4 separate regions of the Homo sapiens genome follow, and all the other regions are reported to be linked to region 1. The links are microRNA targets in miRTarBase. Many come from high-throughput screens and were not tested one by one. Region 1 holds a microRNA gene; each other region holds the end of a gene's coding sequence.

What was found. Region 1 holds the annotated microRNA hsa-miR-548e-3p (AAAAACUGAGACUACUUUUGCA, at 2,205-2,226, shown strand). A microRNA usually pairs through its seed, bases 2 to 8, with sites in the 3' UTR of a target mRNA and lowers its output. Matches are read on the target gene's strand: a 7mer-m8 pairs with bases 2 to 8, a 7mer-A1 pairs with bases 2 to 7 and ends in A, and an 8mer does both.
Region 2: miRTarBase lists AVL9 as a target of hsa-miR-548e-3p. Seed matches in the 3' UTR shown: 7mer-m8 at 1,712-1,718.
Region 3: the mRNA of INSIG1 is a reported target of hsa-miR-548e-3p. Seed matches in the 3' UTR shown: 7mer-m8 at 1,103-1,109 and 7mer-m8 at 1,967-1,973.
Region 4: the mRNA of LNPK is a reported target of hsa-miR-548e-3p. Seed matches in the 3' UTR shown: 7mer-m8 at 1,123-1,129.

Annotation. Positions count from the first base shown.
Region 1 is chr10:110,986,774-110,989,773 of GRCh38, forward strand. MIR548E (microRNA 548e) reads left to right here and starts at 2,153; the gene lies at 2,153-2,240. All of the region lies in intron 3 of SHOC2 (SHOC2 leucine rich repeat scaffold protein), which reads left to right.
Region 2 is chr7:32,583,556-32,586,802 of GRCh38, reverse strand. AVL9 (AVL9 cell migration associated) reads right to left here. Exons shown (of 16, transcript NM_015060.3): 16 at 1-3,011. The coding sequence ends at 2,896. It also overlaps the pseudogene DPY19L1P1. Among named protein-coding and RNA genes, the nearest start is that of AVL9, 90 kb to the right of the region's middle.
Region 3 is chr7:155,307,524-155,310,770 of GRCh38, forward strand. INSIG1 (insulin induced gene 1) reads left to right here. Exons shown (of 6, transcript NM_005542.6): 6 at 718-2,712. The coding sequence ends at 747. It overlaps LOC105375592 (a long non-coding RNA gene), which reads right to left. Exons shown (of 3, transcript XR_007060612.1): 3 at 2,670-3,247. Among named protein-coding and RNA genes, the nearest start is that of INSIG1-DT, 10 kb to the left of the region's middle.
Region 4 is chr2:175,927,405-175,930,651 of GRCh38, forward strand. It overlaps LNPK (lunapark, ER junction formation factor), which reads right to left. Exons shown (of 13, transcript NM_030650.3): 13 at 1-2,795. The coding sequence ends at 2,563. Among named protein-coding and RNA genes, the nearest start is that of LNPK, 73 kb to the right of the region's middle.

The DNA of each region.
Region 1 (3,000 bases):
TCCAGTCATGAATATTTTAGAGGCATGATTACTAAATCATTTGAGGCCTGTGATGATGTTATCTTTCTCCAGAAGAGTTTTTGTCTGCCTCTGTTGGGTACCTAGTAGAGAGGGGATCACTTCAATCAATTCGTGTTCAAGGCTTGAGATGTGTGTGGTCCCCCAAGTGATTAAAAGTTTTGCTGCAGGCTAACTGGATGACTATTTTATTTCCAGTTCACCCTTACTGGTAGGGTGCAGCTCTAGAGGGTCCCAGTTGAGGTTGATGACTAGAGTCCCCACCCTTGGCAGGCCCTAGATTTTGACTCTTGCTGGAAAAATAACTTAGCCTTTTAGCTGCATCTTCCAGTTAGGGCTGTGTTCTTAGGACAGAATTATCTCCATTGTTTTGCTTGTATCTGGGTTCCCAGCTTGTTTCTGTTCTGGTGCTTAGTCATTACGTTGTTAACTCTCTGATTTTGGTTTTGGAAGATGTTTTTATTTATTTATTTTTTTATTGGGAGAATTTATTTGAATTACCTACCATTACTTGAAACAAAGCAGTTGTTAGGGAATTTCTTAGCAGGGTTGAGTAGATTGTCTTAGGTTATACAGGACAATTATTTACAGAAAAGCAAGCTGAGACATGGATGTAATAAATAGCCGTTAGAATCTATGTTTCCCTGATTTTTGGCCCATGACACTATCGTATTACTATTTGTAGTGGAAAGAGATTACATATTCTAGTTAACTGGTTTATGGTTTAGATGTCCCTCTGAAAGGCAAGATTGTCTCCAACACATAATGAATTATTCTATTAATATCCAAAATAAATATTCTACTAAATGTCCTGTATAAAATAAGAGAATCAGATTTCTGGTTCAAGATAATAAGGACCAAGCACAATTATTTCATGCTTTTTTTTCTCTTTAAAATCTATTGAAATGGCCAAGATGAACAAGGAGATGTGACCTTAGGAGAAAAAAAACATAGGATATTTAAACTGCATGTTTAAAACATGATGAGGCTGATACAAAAAGGGAACAAAGAATAAAATACAATTCTTAGAGATATGTTTGCCAAATCAAATTTAATGGAAAATTCCATATAACCAAATGAACACAGCCAGAGACCAAAGTGATGATCTCTAGGATAAATTAAAAGTCCCCTAGAATCTAGATCAAAAAGAAATGTATACAAAAGAAGTGAAAAGTTAAAAAGTCATGGCAGATAGGACTAGACGTTCCAGAAGGCCAAATAGTGGTGATAGTTATAAAATATAATTTTATAATGTTTCCCTGAACTTGATAAAAACCCGGATAATAAGACCAAAATTGCTTACCAAGAAGAAATAAATTAAAAAGTTACATTCTGGTGGTAGTTTTAAATATTAGATGTATTTGTTTTGAATAAATAATAAATTCACATGTAATGTTATACAACCTATCTTTACCTGGTTTTTGGTTTCAGGGTAATGCTGGCTACGTATGTTCAATTTTTGGAATAGTTTGTATGAAATTGCATTATTTCTTCCTTTAATATTTGATAAAATTCACCAGTGAAGCCATCCAGGACAGGACTTTTCTTTATGGGAATTTGTTTTAAAGCAATTTCAATTACTTTAATAAATATAGGGCTATTCAGGTTATCACTTTCTTCTTCAGCAAACTTGGTCATATGGGTCTTTCAAGGAATATATTTGTTTTATTTCAATTATCACATTTAAAAGCATTAAGTTGTTCATAACATTCTTATTATTTTAATATCTGTAGAATCTATAGTAATGCCACCTCTCTAATTCCTGATATCAAGAATTTGTATGTTTTCTCTTTTTCTTAATCATTCTGGTTAGAAGTATATCAATTGTGTTGATCCTCTCTTAGTTTTATTGATTTTCCCTATTGTTTCTCTGGTTTTTATTTCATTGATTTCCATTTTGAACTTTATTTCACCAGCTTACTTTGAGTTTTATTTGTTCTTTTTCTAGTTTCTTATGGTGGCAGCTTGAGGTCATTAATTTGAGACCTTTCTATTATTCTCATAAAGACAGTTAGCACTGTAAATTTCCCCTTAAGTACTGCTTCAGCAGCATCCCACAAATTCTGATATGTTGTATTTTCCTTTTAAAAGTTTTTTCTAATTTACCCTTTTGTTTCTTCTGTGATCTATGGCTTTATTAGGTTGGTACAAAAGCAATCGCGGTTTTTGCTATTACTTTTAAAGGCAAAAACTGAGACTACTTTTGCACCAACCTGATAGAAGAATGTTATTTTGTTCCCAAAAGCTTGACAATTTTCCATGATATATTATTGACTTCTAATTTACCTCCATTGTGGTCAAGAACATTCCTGATAGGACTTGAATTCTTTCATCATGGTAAAAGTATTCCATGTGCAGTTTAATGTGTATTCTACTTTTGTTGGGTGGAGTGATCCATAAATATGAATCATGGTACAGATGAGGCAATCAATGAGTTTATTCTACTTTCTGCCGTTTCTGGAGGAGTCTCTTTTTCTTCTTATTTTTGTTAACTGCATTGTCAGCATAGGTAACATACCTTGTTGTACTAATTCCCATTTTTGTTTTAGTCTTAATGTTTATCAGCAGTCCTGTTGCCATAGTTGCCTCAGTCATTTCTTGGTTGGCTGAAGTCAATCTGGTTGGTAGTCATTTGCTCAAAAATGGTTCATGGGAGCAGTATTCTCCTATAGTTCTTGCATGTGTGTAGCTTTTATAATTTAAGAACAATTTAGATAGATACAAAATAATTGGATCAAACTGCCTTTCCTTGAGGATCTCAGTAGAACTTGTTAACAGGTAGTTCTACCTTCTTCTGGAATTGAATGTACAAAAATAAGAGGCCAGTCCATTTTCTTTTTTCCCCATGATAAGTGACTTAGTCATTTTGCTTGGCCAGCCAAAGTATTATTTCTAGATTTCTGAAATTTTAAGAACTATATTTTATTTATCAGTGTTTATTTTTCAGGATCATATTTTCCTAGTATACTCTGGGCCAATTCA
Region 2 (3,247 bases), not on the chromosome of region 1:
CCAGGGACATTTTCCAAACACTCTTTTAAGTCACCTGGATAGTGGTGAAGCCACCAGCAAGCCATTGATGTAGTGTGTGTGCCTGGCGCCATCTGAAAAAGGCTGGCTGACCCTGGTTCCCTCACACCTAGGTACAAATACTCAATTCTTAGACACAAAAGCCTTAGCAAGTGTGGCCACCAACACACACACACCTTCACCAGGGCTATGTCAGAAGATGACCTAGTGCTGGTTCCTATGGCTCACAGAGCCAGGGTTTGGAGAGAGGCTGCTGCTTCTATGCTGGCCACTTGGAGCCTAGAATCCAAGCCTGAAGTATGTGTGTGTGTGGGGGGGGGGGGTCACAGGACCAGGGGTGAGGCTTCCTGCCTTTGATTGTGCGAGCTGCCTTGGGGCCCCTGCCAACAATACAACAGCCAGTGTTCCTTGAAAAACTCCACCTCCCAGAACCTGAAGGAAATATAGCTATGGTCTTTTGACCATTTCTATGATGAAAGTTGTATCTTCTGAGATACTTGTTTTATGTTGGAAAGTCAGTAAAGTGACCACTAAGAGTCAAACTCTTAGCTAGAAATGTTAATAGAAAGTCCGATCAAAGTGTATATTCAATGAGGAACAAGTGATATTAAAGCAAAGTTAAACTTCATGTAACTATTTTTATTTCAGTGGATTCCAAAGCATGAGTTGGGCTGCTTTTGAATAGTGGGAGACGGGAGTTTACCCCGATCACAGAAACCATACCAACTGAAAGACAAATCAGCATCTTGCTGGACGACCCCTCACAGAGCTCCTAGATCCTTGAAGTGTGAACTTCAGCAGCTGAGAGGTAACAATTGTACACAAATCACACTATCATGCTCCAACGAATGATGTGGCCCTTATGAAACAAGATGTTAGAATGAATTCTTTATAGTCTCAGCGCAAAAAAGATTCAAGTACTGTTTAAGGTTTTTGTTTGGTACTACTTTCTTCTCTTCAAACAGCATTTCCTGAGGTTAACTTTCTTGGAAGAAGTGGAATTAATGGAGTTCTCACATTCAGCCCTTCAATTTATCATCGCTGAATTCTTGAGTTATGCTCAAATGAGTAATACAATTTGTGTTTAGAAAACACAAAGTGGAAAATTTAGAGACATTTAGATTATGTTTCTATGTTCATTTCAAATGCCTTGGGAGCATTTACTTCTTAAACATTTAGTGAGGAATAAACCAAATATAATCAGGGCCCTCCTTTATTTCCCCAGCAATCTGGGATAGATCATACTCACAATGTATTTCCCAAGTATCCCTTGTTACTAAAAGGCAGTCTGTTCCCCGTAAGTACTCTCTGAGAACAGCCATCCCAGGTATCCTTGAAAAGCAAATGAGAGCTGAGCATGGCAAACACACGAGGTCCAGCTGTGTACAAATCATCAGTAGATGGCACACACATGCATGTATGTGCCTAACATGAAACCAGATATCCTTTCTCAGATGACAGATGTCAAGGCTGCAGTTTTCTTCTCTTGCCTCTTACTTTGCTGAATATAAACTAAGATGAGATTTCTATTTAATACTTACAATCACCTTGCTTTTCTTTTAAGATACTTCTAGAAGGGGGTAGGGATTGATTATAGGAGGACTTTCAGTTAGGGAAGTAGAAGACTAAGTGCTTTGAAAAGCTTTATGAATAAGACTACGAGAAAAGCTGTAGGTCTGCAAACACCCAATAGAAAACTGTTTAAAAAAGAAACAGGCCAGGCGCAGTGGCTCATGCCTGTAGTCCCAGCACTTTGAGAGGCTGAGGCGGGCAGATCACTTGAGGCCAGGAGATCAAGACCAGCCTGGCCAACATGGCAAAACCCCGTCTCTACTAAAAATACAATAATTAGCTGGGCATGGTGGCGCATGTCCATAATCCCAGCTACTTGGGAGGCTGAGGTACAAGAATTGCTTGAACCCGGGAGATGGAGGTTGCAGTGAGCCGAGATGGCACCACTGCACTCCAGCCTGGGCGATAGAGTGAGACCCCGCCCCCCCCCCCCCCCCAAAAAAAAAAAGAGAAACAGATGGCACAAACTCTGGAATAAAAAAAAAGTGCTTGTAAGACTGCAACATGACTGCGGTTGAAAAATAAACACATAGGTCTTCTTTGAAAGTATTGCCCTACAGACACATTCATGTTAAACTGCTTCAGTATCATCGAACCATCACTCTGCTATTTCTCTGCACACCCACCTGCACAGTTATAAAGAGGAGGAAAGCACAGTGATACTCCTTGATGTCTGAAACCAAGTTTTTAAGGATGTGGAAAGAACAAACTAAAAACGTAAAACAAAACACCCAATCCTCAGAACTACCACCTCTAACTTTCATGTTTCTGGGAGGAAGTGAATTAATAAATGTTTTGTGGGTAGAAAGCAAAAAAATCATCACATAATTCAGCAAAATAATGAAGGCCCAACTGTATGACCCCTTCACTTTATAAGCACGTTTTAAGGCCAACTTTAGAGAAAATGGTAATATAAATTAATTTTAGCAAGTATAAATTACAGTGACCATCTAGATATTCAAACACCAAAACAGAACAAAATTTACATAAGTAAAAACTCTTCTAAAGTAAACCAATGTACAATATCAGAACTCAAAATTCATTAGAAGGTTCACTGTATGTTTTAATCAGGCTCAGACTGAAATAAAAGTAGTCAATTGAAACCCCAACCTGGAAAGCCATCCCTGCTATGGCTGTGATTTCATCATTTCGGCATCCCGAAACATTCACTTAGAGCAACATCCATGTAAACAGTTCGACATATGGTCCCCTGCTGTGGATCTGTGGCTAGTAACAGCCTGGGAGCAGCAGACAGACAGGGGACACTTAAACCTCAGAAAGCAATAGCAGCCTCTGACGCCTTGCTCAAGGCTTCTCATCTGGTGGCTCAGTGAGACTTTGGGAGGTGGAAGTGGTGAAAGTGGAAAGCCATGAAGACATAGCTGTCTTTGCACTGGAAAAAGCTCCTCCAACTGACTGGCCTGGATGGAGAGGAGAAAAACAAAAGGAAAAATGTCTTAACTTTTGTTACGAGACAGTGAAAGACCAACATAATTAATACATTTTTAATTAAAAATTTAAAAAAATGTTTTTTGAGACAGCGTCTTACTCTGTCGCCCAGGCTGGAGTGCAGTGCAGTGGTCACGGCTCCCTGCAGCCTTGACATCCTAGGCTCAAGTGATCCTCCCACCTCAGCTTCCCAAGTAGCTAGGACCAC
Region 3 (3,247 bases), not on the chromosome of region 1:
ATACTGTTCTCCATTAAGAATTTACCCTGAGGTGCCTGGTCATAGTAGTAACTGTAGTGTCTACCTCTCAGAAGCTCTGTGAGGGTCAGATGAGGAAGAACATGTAGAAAGGATTTCCCAACTGTGAAGCTCTGTGTGAATTGAGGGCACACAGAGCTTCAGTATTACAAAGCATGACCTATTTCCAATGTCTGTTTCAACAAACTGCTGGTAAGGTGGGTTATAACACAGGCATCAGATACTAATAAAGGTTTGTGGCAGAAACCTCCCTTCAGATAAAGGTTCAATCCCTTAAATTGCAGTTAGAACTTTCAGGAACCTATCATACCCTAAGCATCACCATGCTTTGATAAAATTGGGTGTTTCCTTTATATAGATATTAATTTAGTTAAACTTTCACCAATATCTTACACTTATATAACAGGCTTTATATAAGGGCCTCAGCAGCGTAATTTCACCTGAGGCAGAGAATTATCCTAATTTTGCAGGTGAGAGCTGTGGCTCACGGGGCCAGAGCCATGAAGACGGTGCAGGGGAGCTGGGAGAGCTGGCCTCGGTCTCCAGTTCTCTGCACATGTCCCACCTCTCAATCTTGTTGCTTCAGTCAAAGAAAGTGTCAATCTTTCCCATGTTAGGACCTACTTAATTGGTAATTAAAATATTTATACATTTAGTGCTAATTTTCTCTTTCCTTTTTTTTTTCCTTTCTACACATAGGGTGTTCCTGAAAAGCCCCATAGTGATTGAGTCTTCAAAACCACCGATTCTGAGAGCAAGGAAGATTTTGGAAGAAAATCTGACTGTGGATTATGACAAAGATTATCTTTTTTCTTAAGTAATCTATTTAGATCGGGCTGACTGTACAAATGACTCCTGGAAAAAACTCTTCACCTAGTCTAGAATAGGGAGGTGGAGAATGATGACTTACCCTGAAGTCTTCCCTTGACTGCCCGCACTGGCGCCTGTCTGTGCCCTGGAGCATTCTGCCCAGGCTACGTGGGTTCAGGCAGGTGGCAGCTTCCCAAGTATTCGATTTCATTCATGTGATTAAAACAAGTTGCCATATTTCAAAGCCTTGAACTAAGACTCAATTACCAACCCGCAGTTTTGTGTCAGTGCCCAAAGGAGGTAGGTTGATGGTGCTTAACAAACATGAAGTATGGTGTAATAGGAATAATATTTATCCAAAAGATTTTTAAAAATAGGGCTGTGTTTAAAAAAAAAAACAAAACAAGAAAAGCAGCAGTGATTATAGAGAGGTCACACTCTAAGTGGGGTCGCGGCGTGGCCACGCTTCACGGTCACGCTCGTCCGTCCTGCAGTGGCGTGTTTACATGGTCACACGTGTGTGTATCACCAGTGGGTCAACTGCTTGTCATTCCTCCCGTGGCAGTTTGTGTAGACAATCTTACTGAGCAAAAGGCAATGAAAAGTCTTGGTTCCCACACTGCGATATATTGGAATTTTCACCTCAGTTTATGAAGTTTATTTCGAAATCCATAGTCATCTAAGAATGAATACCTGTCTGCCATGTATTTCAATCTTAGTGAGCCAAAATTGTTTGTTTGTTACTACAGAATAGAGATGACTGTTTTTTGCCACAGCCCTATGGAATTTGCAATCTGTGATTGCCTTGTAAAAAGGAGAGTGCATATGGCACTGCATTAAACGTGTGGTGTTTCTAGTCAATGATATTGGTGAGCACAATGTATTCATTTAATGGCATAGACCATACCAGACCTAATTTGCAAGTATTGGGTCTTAAACTTCAAGTGCAATGTATATGAAAACCAATCTGAGCCTTGTATCTCTTAAATATTTATTTTTTTTAACGTGTGAGATGTTCGAGAGAAGGTTCTCCATTCATTTCAGTGCTGCCTGGAGGAAACTCGGCAATGATTTCTTTCAGTTGTGAAGTTCCTTTCGTGTTACACCCTCCACTGAACCCTCAACCTTCGAAATACTCCAGTTTTGTGGGTTTGGTCATTTTTACTTATAAATTTACCTTTTTGTATTTTGCAATTTACATGTGTTTGGTTTGTTTTAAATTCTGTGAAAGTGGCTTGATTAAAAGACTCCTTTTAAATGGAAGCCACCAGTCAGCAGAATGGAAGCTTAGAGGAACTTGCCTGTGAGCGCTGGTCTTTGTGTTTGGTTTTGTGATGTAACGATCTTTGCTGGGGTTTTTTGCTTTGTTTTGAGGGAAATGTCTTGGAGTAAATTTTAAGTTCCTGGAGTTAATTTGTTTTACAGGAATTTTGTTTTTTAAAAAAATAGGATCATTCTGAACTTTGGAATGACCCCCTTATATATTTTCTGAAAATGAAAACAGTTACATGAAAAAAATTTCCAATGAAGATGTCAGCATTTTATGAAAAACCAGAAGTTATTAGATGAAAGCAGCGAGTGAATCTTTAAAACAGACTTGATCACGCACACACAATAAGTCTTTCTCTCCGAAACCGGAAGTAAATCTATATCTGTTAGAAATAATGTAGCCAAAAGAATGTAAATTTGAGGATTTTTTTGCCAATAGTTTATAGAAAATATATGAACCAAAGTGATTTGAGTTTGTAAAAATGTAAAATAGTATGAACAAAATTTGCACTCTACCAGATTTGAACATCTAGTGAGGTTCACATTCATACTAAGTTTTCAACATTGTGTTCTTTTTGCATTCATTTTTTACTTTTATTAAAGGTTCAAAACCAAGTGTTGTATTTATGTTTGCTTTTTAAAAAACAGTTGGGGTGGTGGTCTCTGTGTAGGATGTTAGAATTTGTAATGGAGAAATATTTTGCAGTTCTTCAAATTTTACTGAATTTTGACACAACCTCTTGGGAAGTATTTGAATCATCCTTCAATATACACAGGACATTGGTTCCAGGATACCCCACGTATGCGAAAATCTGCATACTCAAGTCTGGCACTTGGCCCTACGGAACCTGCGTACACTAAAAGTCAGCCCTCCGTATACGTGGGTTTCACATTCAGCAAATAAACCATGTTTGGTTGGAAAAGCTCCATGTATATAAGTGGACCCACAGGTTCAAACCCTGTGTTGTTTAAGGGTCAACAGTATGTGTTTTTCTTATGGTAGAAAGTTTTAAGTGCAGCACGAGCTGAATTGAACCTGCCACCTTACCCCTCCTCACCACAGGCACCCGGTTTTCAGGCAGGAGGAGCGGGCATGCCTGGCCTGTCACAGGGGCAGCTTCCCTGCTGCCAGCCGGCGTGGCTGGAGTTA
Region 4 (3,247 bases), not on the chromosome of region 1:
GGTGAGCAGAGAGTGACATGATAGGGAGTAAAAGGCAGAGGCCAGCTTCAGATGGGGAGTTTGGGAAGGCATCTCTCTGAGGAGGCAAAATTTAAGCTGAAATCTGAGGCAGGAAAGGGCATGGTCAGAGAACTGAAAGGAGTTCCATATGGCTACAGCACAATGATGGCGGGAAGACGGAGAGACAGAAGCTAGACCATGTTTGTAGATCATGCTCAGGACATAGAAGAATTTAGATGACCCACTGAACAATTGTAAGCAAGGAAGCTAAGATCACTGTAGCTAATGGTACTTAATAGCTTGGATTTTCTCATTTATACTAGTCTTAATAATCAGAAATAGGACATTTTACTAAGTTTCAACCATTAACTGTTTATTATAATAATAATGAAAATAAGCTTTTGTATCTAAAAGGATACTATATGGTTACAAACATGTTACCTATCGCATTAATTTTACTAATCCCCTTTTAACCTTCCTCCATATTTCTTTCAAAGATATTTCTCATACTATCTGTTTGAGTCTATCAAATTTCTCTGAGGTACTCACTCATTTTCAAGCAATGTATATCAGAATTTGAATGTTTTATAACAACATGACTAAGCAAGATGTTACTAAAATCCATATGGGTCAGTAACATACAAAAAACCTGATGAAATTATTTTTAAAAAGTTTATATTCCACAGAGTTTCAGTTTCCTATTTCCTTAATCTATGTATTTATATACATACATACAATATAGAAAAGTTGATGCAAAAAACATTGGCTTGAATCTGAGAAGCTGAATTACATGTTCGTATTATTTTTTACTTTCCTCATCTGCAAGAGGAAAAACTTATGGTCCTTGCATATTTTAAAGACATTAATAAGAACAAATGCCATCGTTTTCAGGTAGTGTGCTAGGCACATTACATTATTTTTAATTATCCTAATACCCTTCAAAAATAAACATAACTCTTCCCATTTTACAGATGAAAAAATAATCTCAGTGAGTTTATAGGTGACTTGCCCAAGACTACAGACCTGAAATTTAAGCCCAATACGGCAGGCTCAAAAACTCTGGTTACTATACCGGATGTCCCAGACTGTTAACAGATTGAGTTCCAAAAAAAAAAAAAAAAAAAAACTGTCACATATGAGATATTAAATCATAAAAATAGATTTTTAAATGATAAAAATGTTTTGTTCAGTTGTTAATAAACTGTGTGCAACTTAGAAACATTAGCCAAACACACCATTCTTATACAGGTATATTTTTCCCTTCAGCATAATAATTTGATTTCCATTTTTTTTAATATTGGAGAAGAGAGATAAAAGGAGGCCGTAACAGATAAGCACACTGTATTAAAGGTCCAAGAATTAGCACTGAGACACATTTTTTCCAGTTAATCCTTAATACAAATATTAAATCCAATTAACTACCAGCAACCCACTACCTATTCTCACAAAATTTGTTTCTCAAAGTTAAAAATTACAAATGGCTGGCCTACGATGTTCCTGAATCAGAAAAACCTAACTTCTGATTAAAACCTCTAAATGTCACTATTTCTGTTAACTAGAAAGGAAACAAGTCTGAATAAAAGTACCATAATTTGCTCTAAGCAGAATCTACAGATTTATTGTATTGTGAGCTATTCCTCCTAAGATTTTTCAGGTAGCCAAGTCACCCACCAAGATACTGTTTGAAGAAGACTAGATATTTAGCAAAATGAAACTGATGCCAGATTATTTTCATTTTCCTTAATAAAATACAAACAAGAGCACAAAATTCACTTATATATCATCATTTTATACTTATAAATAATGCTCAGAATTCAAATAGGGTCAAGTGCAGAAATATTTCCTATATGCTAGTGTGTAAATATAAACTAATTATATACATAATGTGCCTTTGGCCCAGTTGTAAAATAAAAGACATCAAAAAGAAACACTGCAGTTGACTGTTTCATTGCATTCTCACTGAGAATTCGTACCAGTGCCAACGTAGTTACAGTTCTACTTAACTGTTCCACTGCATTCTTATTGAGAATTCGTACCAGTGCCTATGTGGTAACAACTTTCATACCGCTTAATGTAAACACCTAAATAGACATTTCTCCCAGTTGTAAATATCTCAGGAGCTAAAATTCTATCAATTTTTAATAATGAAGTAGTCAAAATCTTAACCAAGTTTCATTCCTTAAAACAAACACAATTAGAGAACTTACTCTTAACCAAAGTTCTTCCTATGTCAAAATGGATATTTACGGGTTATACATACAGAAAACAAGAAGGCAATCATGTTTGCTTACTTTTAGAATGGACAAAAAAGTATCTAAAAGCTGTCTCAATAGTGTGGGTCTTTGTACATTCAAAAGGATCTTACTTCACTGATATAACTTGCTTTTAATTTTAATACCCAGTATATATAACTTTGAGATGTTCAAATAGCTAGGCAATCTGAATTCAAATGATACACAAGCATACCCTTAGAGGGGCAAAAAAAGTAAGTGCCACCGAAAAAGCAATAACTGACATCAGTAAGACTATAAATATCCAGTTGAAGGCACGTGGAAGCATTTACTACTCTGCCGTCAAAGATTCTCCACTTAGTTCAGGATCAGGAATAGAATCAGCTCCAGGAACTGTGGAGTTGGTTTCAATCACTGAGGCTTCCTCATTCTCAGTCTCTTGTTTCTCCTCTGGTTCCTCTGAGTCAGATGCTTTTTCAATCACTTGGTTTGTCTGTTCTGTAGCTGGTATTTTGTCATCTGTCTGCTCTGTATTATCATCAAGAACATCGTGTTCTAAAGATTCTGAAAAGATAAAGATTCAAAACTTTAGGAATACCTGAACGTTAAAACTGCTAAATAAGGCAAGCAAAAAAGATAAACACACACACACACACACACACACACACACACACACACACACAAAGAAACCATACAATTGTCTAACATTATCCTTAAAATCTTTTACAATAAGTACATAACTCTCTTTACAGTTAGTATGATAGAAGAAAAAAAAAGTAATTCAGAGGAAAAAAACCCATAAATATACTTTTTCTAATGTCCCATATTTTCATACAAAATAAGTTACTAAAGACACATCTGAAAGTTGAAGTCCAAAAATCATAGTCCCAACAGAATTATGTGCTATAATACAATAGTCCAGCAAACAATGCAAATGTATTAATGTCCAGATTACATTTCCTGAAGAAACTGTTTCCCTTGTGTCCAGGCAACCCTGTGAGTAATATGTAAATGTG